Linked DNA regions of Homo sapiens: regions 1 and 3 are each reported to be linked to region 2. The links are microRNA targets in miRTarBase. Many come from high-throughput screens and were not tested one by one. Region 2 holds a microRNA gene; each other region holds the end of a gene's coding sequence.

The links. The annotated mature microRNA hsa-miR-4661-3p reads CAGGAUCCACAGAGCUAGUCCA and lies in region 2 at 2,202-2,223, shown strand. An mRNA with a match to its seed (bases 2 to 7 or 8) in the 3' UTR can be bound and repressed. Matches are read on the target gene's strand: a 7mer-m8 pairs with bases 2 to 8, a 7mer-A1 pairs with bases 2 to 7 and ends in A, and an 8mer does both.
Region 1: miRTarBase lists TMEM170B as a target of hsa-miR-4661-3p. Seed matches in the 3' UTR shown: 7mer-m8 at 3,459-3,465.
Region 3: the mRNA of SPANXN5 is a reported target of hsa-miR-4661-3p. Seed matches in the 3' UTR shown: 7mer-m8 at 3,353-3,359.

The regions. Positions count from the first base shown.
Region 1 is chr6:11,574,883-11,579,129 of GRCh38, forward strand. It overlaps TMEM170B (transmembrane protein 170B), which reads left to right. Exons shown (of 3, transcript NM_001100829.3): 3 at 549-4,247. The coding sequence ends at 679. Among named protein-coding and RNA genes, the nearest start is that of TMEM170B, 39 kb to the left of the region's middle.
Region 2 is chr8:91,203,330-91,207,576 of GRCh38, forward strand. MIR4661 (microRNA 4661) reads left to right here and starts at 2,156; the gene lies at 2,156-2,230. The region is part of intron 7 of LRRC69 (leucine rich repeat containing 69); the gene reads left to right.
Region 3 is chrX:52,793,090-52,797,336 of GRCh38, forward strand. It overlaps SPANXN5 (SPANX family member N5), which reads right to left. Exons shown (of 2, transcript NM_001009616.4): 1 at 4,185-4,247; 2 at 3,055-3,542. The coding sequence ends at 3,399. Among named protein-coding and RNA genes, the nearest start is that of SPANXN5, 2.2 kb to the right of the region's middle.

The DNA of each region.
Region 1 (4,247 bases), not on the chromosome of region 2:
AAGCAAGAACTATTTTGTATGGTAGATTGTGAGATGGATTAGTCAGGTATTATATTTTACATGATATTTAAGAATTCATATTATTCAGAAAAGATACCTTTAATATTAAAATATTTATTAATAATTTAGAAATTACATTAAATTATGTTATTTTTCTGCATTATCACTTGTAATTATCAGTATGTTATACTGTATGTTTACAAAAATGCTAAAGAGGTCTAGTTAATTGAATGCCCAGGTGAGAGGTTGCAATAATGAATTATTCATTGTTTATGAACATATTTGCTATCAAGTATGCAGCATATACCATAAATATATATCTTTTGGTTGAATAGAAAAGTCTGTTTTTCAAATAAGTGGCTAAGTGTATTATGGTAAGTTGTAACTTTCACCAATCACAGGGAAACTTTTTCATAGAAAGTGGATAAAATGAGAAAAAAATGATGACTTATGTTTTGATGAAATGAAAAGAGCTCTTAAGGTGCAGCATGCAGTGTGTTATAAAACGAGTGACTGTATCCCTTCATTTTTCTCCCGTTTCTCCTTAGGTGCAGCAGTAGCGGGCATTTACAGAGTAGCTGGGAAGAACATGGCCCCTTTGGAAGCGCTGGTATGGGGCGTTGGACAGACTGTACTGACATTAATCATCTCCTTTTCAAGGATCCTCGCTACACTTTGAGGTTTCTGTGGGAATGTCTTACTTCACATAAGGAAACAGATGTACAGATTCCCTGAAAACGGCATTGTTAACAAGTGGAAATGAAATTGTGCAAGAATGTGGACTGAGCAGGTCAAAGCATAAGGAAGACCTTGAGCTGTGTGGAAGGATTGCCCTCTGGTGTTCAAGTGATTGCACTACCGCACTGCACCTTATGTGCCTCTGTCTCAGGCAAGGTGCATTAAGACACTATGTAAAGTTACAAGAAAAAGCACCTTGTTTAGCTGCCTATCAGGTTAACATTGGTGTTGAAATCATCGTTCCTAACAGTGTTATGTTAAGTTACAGGGACGTTTTGAGGTATTGATATATGTGCCAAACTCTTTTCTTTTTGTTAACATTGATCATGTGACAATTTGCAAGTGTAGATGTAGCTGAGTGCTGTGAACATATTTGACATGAATTCAGGTAATGTACTAAGATTTTTGTTCGGTAACACTAAATCCCGTATGAGTGCTAAATACTGAATTGTTTAATATGAGAGAAATTATTTGGTTTTTAATGTTGCGCGTTTCTGGGATTTAGGGCTTCAATATGTTTAGGTATTATTGTTATTTAATTGATGTGGAAGATAAGTCTTCTTAACTGAAGACTAGCTCAACTGTTTTAAGAACTCAGAGTAGCTCTATAGGGTGCATACTTTTCACCAACTTAAGTAACACCCTTTTAATAGCTTCTCTCATGCATCCATATTCTGTTTATACAAATTCAGAAACTTGAAGGGTCATACACATTGATTGTAGTTTGTGCGTCATAAAAATGTAATTTGAAGATTTTCTTAAAAATTTTTGTAAGAAAAAAGTCTGAAATGCATGTTGCATTCTTTGACCCTTCTAAAGAAAGTTTTTGCCTTGTATCTCATGGACAAAACATCTTTATAACTAGTATCTCAGTGGGATTGTATTACGTGTTGCATATATCTTGATTTTTGACAAAACATAAACAGTCTTTCATTCTGGAGTATTAACTGTTTTTAGAGACTGGCCTAAATTAGGCTCTGGAAATAAAGACCTCATTTGTAGAAATAAGTAACAAGTAAGTTATATAGGAAGAGTAATGAACTATTTTACTTTGGACATGTGGCAACATCATAATTTTGCTAAGTAAAAATTGGGGAATATAGTAGATAATTTTAAAATTTGGCAATTAGTCTCAGCATATCAATGCAGTACTGAGCGTGTATTAGAGTAATTCAGTTGTTCAGTTCTTGATTTATGATATGAAGTTATGATTTAAGTTTAGTAGAAGAATCTGTGAGGGCATATAGCAAAAGTGGAAATGTCCTTTATATAAAACATTTTAAGAGGTTCTGGCAATACGTAATTGTAAGAGTATAGGAAGTAGGGTTGAACTGGTCTCCTAATGAGATTTTTTTTGGCACCAGATACAATTATAATGTGCTAACTCAAAGGAGACATTGCAGAGAATATGAAGTTAAGGATAATCCAAAAATAACCTGGTAGCCTTGCTGTTTAATCCAATTTGCTATAAAAGTAGGCCTTTGTTATATTACATTCAAATTTAAGAACTTTGTTACCCATACCACTTTTTCTCTATCCAGAAGCAGAGTATATCCACAACTTACCAATGAGAAGTTGGAGAGGCAGTACTTTTCTCAGTATGGAAGCCAATTTGGGAGATTTACTAACACTGGCTTGGAAATTTGTTTTAAAAAAATAATAAGCAACTATGCATGGATCTTTGAAGTAAATCTTAAAATTGATTATTTTTATTATGTACAGGCCTGAAATTGTTTTCATGTGTTCTTTATATTCCTGATGTTTTTACAAATTAAATTTAGGCATAACTTTTCCAAGTCAATCTGATTTTTTCTTTTCTGCCAGACTTGAATTGTGTTCTTCTTTTACTTTGGCTATTCTGTCAATAATTTAAAGCATTCGTATTCTTCCAGAGGAATTACCAATAGCATGTGGAAATTGTTTCAGATCTCCAGAATGAATACTTATTTTAACATATGTTTATTTTATGATTTAAGAAAGTTATGGTAAAGTAATATGGAGCATGATTCATAATCCAAAATTAACAAGAAAATAACTTGGATACATTAAATGTACTAATGTGTGGACCAAAGAGATTTAAACTATTGTTTTTACTCTAGAATGAAAGTATAATTGAACGGTTAATAATTAGTTTGTAGAGTGTCCTGCAGTTATTATCAAGTTGCTTTACATTATCAATTGTGTGTGTATGTGTATACTTTTAATTTTAGGGGTTATTTTTGGTTTCTTTGCTGTTTTCAGTTATTTCCATTGAGATTTTGTGCAACTGTCTCTCTTTTGATGTTTTGAGATGCAGTTGAATAGTTTGAGTTTGTGAATTGTCTTAATAGCTATTTATATGCTGAAATTTTTAAAAAGTTAGTAGCTTTCCTATAGACACAAGAAATGTTTAATGATATATATACACACACGTATATATCATTATATAGGTATATAGAGAGCTGCTATATATGAATACAGTCTACTTGGAAAGCTTTTTTTCAGTGAACACTTTCATGTTCTAGTGGAAAATTTGTTCAGTGTAATGATCTTTTAAATAGGTTTGAGGATGTTTGAAAATTTTGAATTTTGGGAAAATTTTCTTCACTTAATAGAGCTGGAGACCCTTGTTTGGGACATGACAAAAGTCCTTATTGATGTATTTGGGTTATATACTTTGTTAAAATTCGTATGTGATTTAGCAGTACATTTTCTTCGTGACAAATGCAAGAAGGGAGGGAGGATCCTCTATAGTGGACACTCCTTTATTTAAAAAATGTTTAATAAAATATTGTTTATAGTGAAATCAGCTCCCCAAAGAAGGAACTCCTACATGCCCAAACTAATTACAGTTGAACATACTGATTAAAAATGCCATAGATCACAGCTAGTCAGGAGGCCTCAAATAAACTGCAAATAATGCTTAAAACTTTAAAAGAAGGAGAACCAGCAGTCTTCCGAACCATGGGACAGTTCCAAGGTAATAGCCTACCTTGCCTAGGATAAGTGAAGTCCTAAATGATGGCTATCTTCAGGGCCTGGAGCAGAATTATTCTTTAGATCTTAATGTTTACCAAACAGTGTTACAGTTTGTTACCCAATATACTTTCTTAGTATTTGCAGCATACATTTCACTGCTCAAAAAAGTATAAGGGTTTTGTTTGTACTTTAAATGAGAGAAATAAAGAAATGAGTTGGCCTGTATATCTTGTATTTGTGATATGAGCAACGGGATAATTTGAAATCACAGAATGTTGTGGGAAAGGTCTTTAAAGAACCTCTAATGAAGAAAATGTGGCTGCCACATTGATGTACCTAGGCTGCCACTCATACAGCAAATAATTCTATTTTGTAAACACTTCGTGTGGATCCACTATGTAAAGTGCTCTACCAAGTATTTTCTCTAGTAAGAAGTACAAGAATTACCAAGATGGAATTCTTTACCTTGAGTACACCAAGAGCTAGCAAGATGATTTTTAAATCCTAAAAAGTTTGGGACAACATTTTGCTTCCTGATTTTAGTTGAGAGT
Region 2 (4,247 bases):
TATGCTCCAGTAGTCTTTGTGCCAATAAAGGATCTGAGTTGTGAATATGCTTATACCTATCTTTTTTTTTTTTTCTTTCCGAGACAAAGTCTGGCTCTGTCACCCAGCCTAAAGTGCAGTGGTGGTGATCTTGGTTCACTGCAACCTCCATCTCCTGTGTTCAAGCAATTCTCCTGCCTCGGCCTCTCAAGTAGCTGGGATTACAGGTGGCCACCACCACACCTGGCTTTTTTTTGTGTGTGTATTTTTAGTAGAGATGGGGTTTTACCATGTTGGCCAGGCTTGTCTCGAACTCCTGATCTCAGGTGATCTGCCTGCCTTGGCCTCCCAAAGTGCTGGGATTACAAGCGTAAGCCACTGCGCCCAGCCTCAGTGTATCTTATCACTAGCCACTCACCAAATTTACCAAAGAATCTTTTAAAAAATACAGATTATCCTACCCTAGAACTACTAAATCAGAGTCTGTAGCAGTAGGATCCTGAGCATCCACATTTTTATGAAGATTTCTAGCCGGGCACGGTGGCTCACGCCTGTAATCCCAGCACTTTCGGAGGCTGAGGCGGGCAGATCACGAGGTCAGGAGATCGAGACCATCCTGGCTAACACAGTGAAACCCCGTCTCTACTAAAAAAAATACAAAAAATTAGCCGGGTGTGGTGGCGGGCACCTATAGTCCCAGCTACTTGGGATGCTGAGGCAGGAAAATGGTGTGAACCCAGGAGGAGCAGCTTGCAGTGAGCCGAGATCGTGCCACTGCACTCCAGCCTGGGCAACAGAGAAAGACTCCATCTCAAAAAAAAAAAAAAAAAAAAGATTTCTAGTTGATTTTCATGTGCAGTCAGGGCTGAGAATCTCTGCTCTCCCTGTTTAGGGCTGTCCCAGTACCACAGGGAAATGGTTGTGTCTTACACACCTTACTAAGCAAGGCCTATGTGGTTTCTCACACATAACAAAAAGTTGAATATAAAAAAAGTTGAATGAATATTCATTGGTTGAATATATGAATTAATGAATTGTTAGTGACAAAGGTGTAGTACAGCTAATAGTGAAAAAAGAAAAGGAGGTGTTGGTGAAGGAGTAAATCCACTGTGGAGCACTGGAAGATGACAAACACCTTAATATGGCCTCTATGCTGGGGAGAATTCTTACTATGGCTGCCTTCAGGCACACTGTAGAGTTTGCTCTGTCAGTCTGCTTCTTGGACCCTATGCTGAAAGTCTTTCACTTTACTCCACTGTAAGCAGAACAAAGGCTCCTGCATACAAGTATGCTATGTTCCCAAGGATCTCCAGAGCCTGGATTAGGCCTTTCGCCTTTCACAGCCCATGGCCTCCCCAGGGACAATCGATGAGTGCATGTGAATGCTGATAATGTATTCTTACTAGCATTATTAGTTGTTTCATAAGCTTACATTTCTAACTCCTGGATGAGATCATCACTACTTAGGTTCAGAGATACATTATCTTTCTCAAAACTGTAATTGTGAAACTTTCTTTCATGAACTTCACTATATGTGTTGTTCATCATGAGGTTCAACAAGGACAACTTTTTTTCCACCAACTTTTTAGTTTGAGAAATTGGAAAACAACACATAACTTGAATGAATAATACAATGAACATTTGTATACCCTTTACCTAGAGTTGCCGATTTTTAATATTTTTTTCCATTGGCCTTATCTGTTACTGTTTTTTGCCTTTCAGGATGCATCTTGTCCAAAACAAATTTGATATTGACACAAGCCAAGAATGTAGCCTACCTAGAAAGATTGTATTATTACTTTTCAGGGCAAAAATAGAAGAATAGATTCGAATTATAAAAAATATGAATGAATGAATGAATGGATAAATAAAGCTATCCTTCATACCAAGTAGAGAGATTTTATCAAGAGTTACAGTGGATAACACAATATATGAGCCAGAAAATATGTAGGTTATTTTAGCTATACTAACCCACGCTTAGGACATGGAGGCTCACGTTACTGGCCTGTTTACTTTCCAAGAAGCAGAGTACAGATTTTACAACAGCTGCTTTACGTAGTTCATTTATAATCCTGTAGAATGAAATCCAGGAACAGTCATCAGAGTTCACATCACCTGATGTCAGGTATTTACACATCACCTGATGCCAGGTATTCACGTCACCTGATATCAGGTATTTACTCTGAACTAGCTCTGTGGATCCTGACAGACAGCCTGATAGACAGGATCCACAGAGCTAGTCCAGAGTAAAAGACCTAAATCAGCTGTGGTTGTGGTGTAGAGCTACTACAATTTTTCTCACAATGTCCTTTACCAGAGTTTTTGACACTGCCAAGTATTGTAAAATGTTGCATGTGAATTGGGAGACTAAAAGGAAGGCTAGAAGTGTTTTCCTCTTGATCCAGTCATGTACAAATTATGTCTTACTAGACATAACCATGTGTGCTTAAGACAAAAAAATAAAAGTGGAAGAATCTAATCAGAGAAATCATTCTCATCTCAGTTACATGTATATTGGGCTTTAGTGTAGTGGTTGCCTATAAAAGTTCTCTATGAATAAGAAACAGTGATTTAAGTTGTTCAGTTTTTCAATACCTTGATGCTCTTGCTATGGAAATGTCTTTGTCAAAGTTGAGTTGGTGTTTATATCAGAAAGCTTTGAAGTCTTCATGGCATTTAGCAAAATTTGTAGTAATCGATTTACTTGGTGTTGGTGTCTGTCTCTACCACTGAATACTAAGCTCAAGGAATTTAAGAACCATTTTGGTTTTGTTCACCTTTATAGAGAGAGAGCTTCGGACAATACCTGATAAAATTTTATTTCTACAGAATGATAAATCAGATCTGGATTTGAATACCAGCTCCTCCTTTAATTAGTTTGTCAACATATTACATCTCTATGTATCATAAGAAAAATCTGGCAAAGGTGCTGCCAAGGAAGGCTAATGTTAAAATTTTTAAAAGCCCAGAATCTAGAACTAAACAGATAGCCAAAGAGAACATTAAAATAGTGGTTGAGCAGGAATTTGAAAGTTAAAACCAGCTGGACCTTAAATACAAAGAGAAAAGACAGCTCATCGGTGGGAAAATGAGGATAGAAATGTATGTTGGTCCTCAAGATGGGAGTAAATATGTAATCTTGATCACATATGTAGCTATCTGTGAATTGTTCACATTATCATCTGGAATGGATTGTTATATTCAAGAGACATTTAATGAGTACAGCGTGTCAGATTACTCGGAAACAGTTTTCAAAACATCCTGCTTTCCACTGGTGATGTTCTGAACACCTTAGACAAGTTGCCATGTTTAATTGTGCTCTGACAGATTCCCTCTCAAAACCATCTGATGTGCTGCTACTCTTATTTCATGTCTCTCTTTCAGAAACTACAACCTAATACAAGCAACAACAGCCAGAATTTATTTGGTACTGAGTGTGCATCTGGTGCTCTGCTAAATATGTCACCTGGAATACCTCAATTAATGTCCAAAATAACCCCATGACACCAGTAAGAAATCCAAGGCAAGGAGAAACCAAGTAATTTTGCCAATTTCAGAAAGCTGCCAAGTAGAGGATATGGGCAGGGAACTCATACATGTTATTCCTGATCCTTAACCAGAGAGTCTGGGCTATGTTTCCTATGCTTTTCCAACCTAGTTATTCCCCATTTACTTCAGCTGAACTTAAGACATTTATGTTAAAGATCCTTCTTCTGTCCTCATTTATTTATCCACTGAAACTTATTTATTTTTTTCTAACTGTGTGTCAGATTATTTGCCAGGGCTGGGAATACAGAACCCTGATCCTTGAGAAACTCACATGTTCCCAGGAGAAGTGGGATAATAAGGATTGGAATCTGACAAGTTAGGTTTGATGTCCAGCCCTACCACTTGCCACCTGTGTCCTGTTACTTCCCTCTTCAAGGCTAAGCTTCCTCATCCTGTCAAATGGCAATAATAATAATACCCATCACACAGAACTGTGGCTAGGGATCATGAGGTAATGCATAAACAGTGCTTAGTACAGTGGGTGTTCAACAAAGGTAGCATATAGTAGGTGCTTAATAAGTATTTTTTTTTATGTGTGTGTTTTGTAAACCAAGGCTTTCAGACAAGAAAGAGAGAATGATTGCATTCTTGTGATAAGCAGATGTGAAGCTGCACAGGATGCTGTGAGAAGAAGGCATCTCCAGTAAATGGGATAGTCCCTGGTTTAACCCTGGTGCCTACCACAGTGATTGTGTTTGGCGAATCCATAATAAATGTTA
Region 3 (4,247 bases), not on the chromosome of region 2:
AAATCAGCTGGCCGTGGTGGCAGGCCTCTGTGAATTCCAGTTACAGTGGGGAGTGAAGCAGGAGAATCCCTTGAACCTGGGAGATAGAGTGTGCAGTGAGCTGAGATCACGCCACTGCACTCCAGCCTGGGCGACGGAGTAAGTCTTTGTCTCAAACAGCATCTCTCGTCTACAGTGATGCTCTTGTCTCCTTGGGTTTCTCTACCAGTCTGATCACATCTACTCTATCTCCCAGGAATGCCTCAATATTTCTGGTGAACCACTGACACGTTTTCTTATTTTCCTCTACTCTTGAGAATTGACCCTTGAAAACATTTTCTTCCCAGTTCAATGGAATGTTGAGTGGGGCACGGGATCTATCTGCCATCTTGCTCCAATCATCTGGTTTTAGATATTTTATGTATATTTGTCACTATATAAGTGTAATTTTTCTCAATTTGGTTTTCTAAATCGTTAATATTGGTATGTAGAAAAAACCTATCTATATATATATAATATTTTGTTACCTGTCTGGGTGCAGCTTCCCCTGCATTTTGGCACAAGACTCAATATGTTTTATTCTCCAAAAGGAAAGTGACAGGCTGGGCGCGGTGGCTCACGCCAGTAATCCCAGCACTTTAGGAGACTGAGGCGGGTGGATCACCTGAGGTCAGGGGTTCAAGACCAGCCTGGCCAAGATGGTGAACCCCTTTCTCTACTAAAAATACAATAAAATAAAAAAAATTAGCAAGGCATTGGTGGTGCGCACCTGTAGTCCCAGCTACTAGGGCAGCTGAGGCGGGAGGATCATTTGAACTCGGGAGGCGGAGATTGCAGTGAGTCGAGATCGCACCACTGCACTCCAGCCCGGGCAACAGAGACTCTATCTCTAAATAAAAAAGATAAAGAAAAAAAGAAAATTCACTTCACAGGCAATAGAGAGTTATAAAAGGATACTTTATGGATGATTTCATAGGGGAGAATGATGGAAAGAAAGGATATAAACATATATATATATATAACAGAGCTGAGCAATTCACTGGAACAATCACCAGAACTGCCTTTTTCTCCAAAAATAGTACCCCTAAGCTATACTACTACTGGTTCTTCTAGTCCTTCCCTCTATTCCACATCCTCAAATTGTCCATTTTCTTATTGGGATAATTTTCCTCTGCCCAGATCTGGGTCCTCCACAACACTTAACACTGTCTTCGAGTGTTTGAATGCCCATTGCTTTAGCTCAGATTCCCAAGGAAACAGGCTTTGGGCCATACAGGACACCTCTAGACAGACTATACTGAGAAACAATGCCTGGAATGGTACATGGGGAGAGGAGAGGAGAGGAGAGGGAATTACGTACCTGACTCTCACTCCTGGTTCCTTTTCTTATTGGTCAAAATTTACCCCACAGGTGCGAACTCCCCTACACTTCTAGATTGCATCAACTGCCCCTTTGACAGCTGTCTAGGAAGCCAGATCCCACACTTTGAAGTGTAGTGTTTCATACAATCCAAAAGTGGTAGCAGAGGCCAGGCGTGGTGGCTCACGCCTGTAATCCCAGCACTGTGGGAGGCCAAGGCAGGCGGATCATGAGGTCAGGAGATCGAGACCATCCTGGCCAGCATGGTGAAACCCCGTCTCTACTAAAAATACAGAAATTAGCTGGGCATGATGGTGCACGCCTGTAATCCCAGCTACTCGGGAGGCTGAGGAAGGAGAATCGCTGGACCCTGGGCGGCAGAGGTTGCAATGAGCTGAGATTGCACCATTGCACTCCAGCCTGGGCAACAGAGGGCGATTCCACCTCAAAAACAAACAAACAAAAACAAAACAAAAAATAAAAAGTGGTAGCAGAAATCAGAAAGTCCAGATATGTAGGTAATTGGCCTTGTTGTACAGCAGCAGCCAAGGGTGAACACTAAATGCTCCCAGGCAAGTCCTAAGTTCATCGAGTAACTGGAGTACCCATCTGTGTTAGTTAATTGCCTTTATCTGAAGGAAAAATAAAACTCATATCTCTATGACAAGCAGGTGCTTACGGCTTGGAGCAAGGCACCTAAGTTAAACTCCCCTGGTGACAGGGAGACAAAGACATCATCTTCCTCAACGTTCACCTTTCAAAGAGATGCTCCATGGCCCTGAAGAAAGACATTCCTGGTGGCGGTGTTTGGTAGCTCACACCTGTAATCCCAACACTTTGGGAGGCTGAGGCTGGAGGATCACTTGAGGCCTGGAGTTCAAGTTCAAGACATTCCTGGGTTATAGGGTGGCCAGAGGCTTACATATCAAAGGAAGAATTTATAAATACAAATTTTCTCAAGGAAATGCTCTAAGGAAAGTGAAATGGGGAAGGTCTCTTCTTGCTCTTTTGGCAACAGGAAAATCTCAATTTTATGTTTAGTTACCCTTACAATTTCCCCCTTTTGTTATTCTTTTATAGTAACAGTACAATTTTCTAGTTATCTCCACTGCTTTGAAATGAGGCTCATTGGCACTGGAGAAGCTGGTTCATTCACACAGTCAGCTTCACATTCCCTCTTTTGATCAAGATCTTTCTTTGAAAACCTCACAAACCTGAGGTGATCCACCCACCTCAGCCTCCCAAACTGCTGGGATTACAGGCGCAAGCCACTGTGCCCGGCCCTATAACCAATGTTTTTAATTGTATCCCTCTAGAGAGAGTGAGCAGAGGTGTCTGTGTATGTCTGTATTGTGCTTTGTGTTTTACAGAACATTAACTCTTTATAAAGCATATATTTCTAACCTAGGAAAATATCAAATGGAAAAGGGATGGGAATACCTTTGATATGTACATTCAGCAGAACTATGTGCTGCCGGGTACAGTTGCATGAACATATACACATCTCCACTTCCTGTGGGAGGAAATTTTAAGAAGAAAATTTTCTTTAGGAATCAGTGCTCCCCCAGGCCTTATTTACAATGTCTGGCTTACTGTCAACCTGTGAGTCTGTCCACCAACCCTACAGGACCTCATATCCCTCCCTTCTCAAATGCCTACCTCTTCCCTTCCCTTCTCCCCCACCATCAGAAAACAGGCATAGATATATGCAGCCATCAGCTTCTCAAACTTGATTTTATTGTAATCATCACCGTTGGTGGTGAGGATTTGTCCAATTTGGTTTCTCCATGTTTAATTAGTCTTCCTCACCCTCCTCTGACGATCCTTCAGATGAGTCTGGGTCTTCTTCCTCCATCAAAGATCCTTCAGATGAGTCTAGGTCTTCATCCTCTTGTGAAGATCCTTCAGATAACCCTAGGTCTTCATCCTCCTGTGAAGATCCTTCAGGTAATTGTAGGTCTTCATCCTGCTTTGAAGATTCTGCAGATGAGTCTAGGTCTTCGTCCTCCTGTGAGGATCCTTCGTCCTCCTCCTCTTGGACTGGATTGATGGAGTTCTCTCAGGACTGGTCATTCTCGAGTTGATTTGAATGTATTTTCTTAGTCTTCCTGTAGCACAACACTAATACTGTTGAATATTCTGATGTTTTCATCTTTTTCAAACTCGGTTCGAGGACTAAGTCCCTGTTTGGTGTCTCCTGCATCTGTTAAGAAAACAGGGAGAGGCCAGAAAGACATTATTTTGGGTGAATAGGATAGAGACTGGATAGCAAGGGGGGCTTTATGAGAAGGAATGCAGGTTGAGGAAGGGGTTCGATCCAGAGAAGAACAAGGTTGACTCACAGGGTAGGGATCTATGGGGAAGAAGAGGAGCATGGGTAGGGTCATCTGTTAGTCCAAACTGCACCATTTTGTAAGTTCTTTGCTATTTTGCAGACCTTGGTCAAAGTGAAACATCCCATGGGGGTTCAGGCCGTGAGAAACATCCTGCCTAACCACCTGTCCACAAGGCAGACAAAGGCCCAACTAAAGAAACATCCCTATCATATCTTGCTTGGCAAAGTTCTAAGGAACACCACAACGATATTCCACCAGAAAAAGGGCCAAACCACCTGATCATAAGAACATCTTATCAATATCCTGCTGGGCAGCAAGCCATGCTGCCCAGATCCCTCCCACCCATACCTGTAAGTACCCCAGGCTGTAAGCGGTGGTGGGATCTGGCATTAAGCTGGTCCCCCACTTCCACAAGCGTCTGCAGTATTCCTGTGTTGCTGTTTGAGCTGCCCCCTCTCTGTGTGTCTTTCTTTCACCCTCGCCTTCACTTCAAAACCTAACAATCTTACCTCATCATTTTTGCTGTTGGAGTCACAGGGGCTCTTCCTCTTCTCCCCATTGGTGCTTGAAGT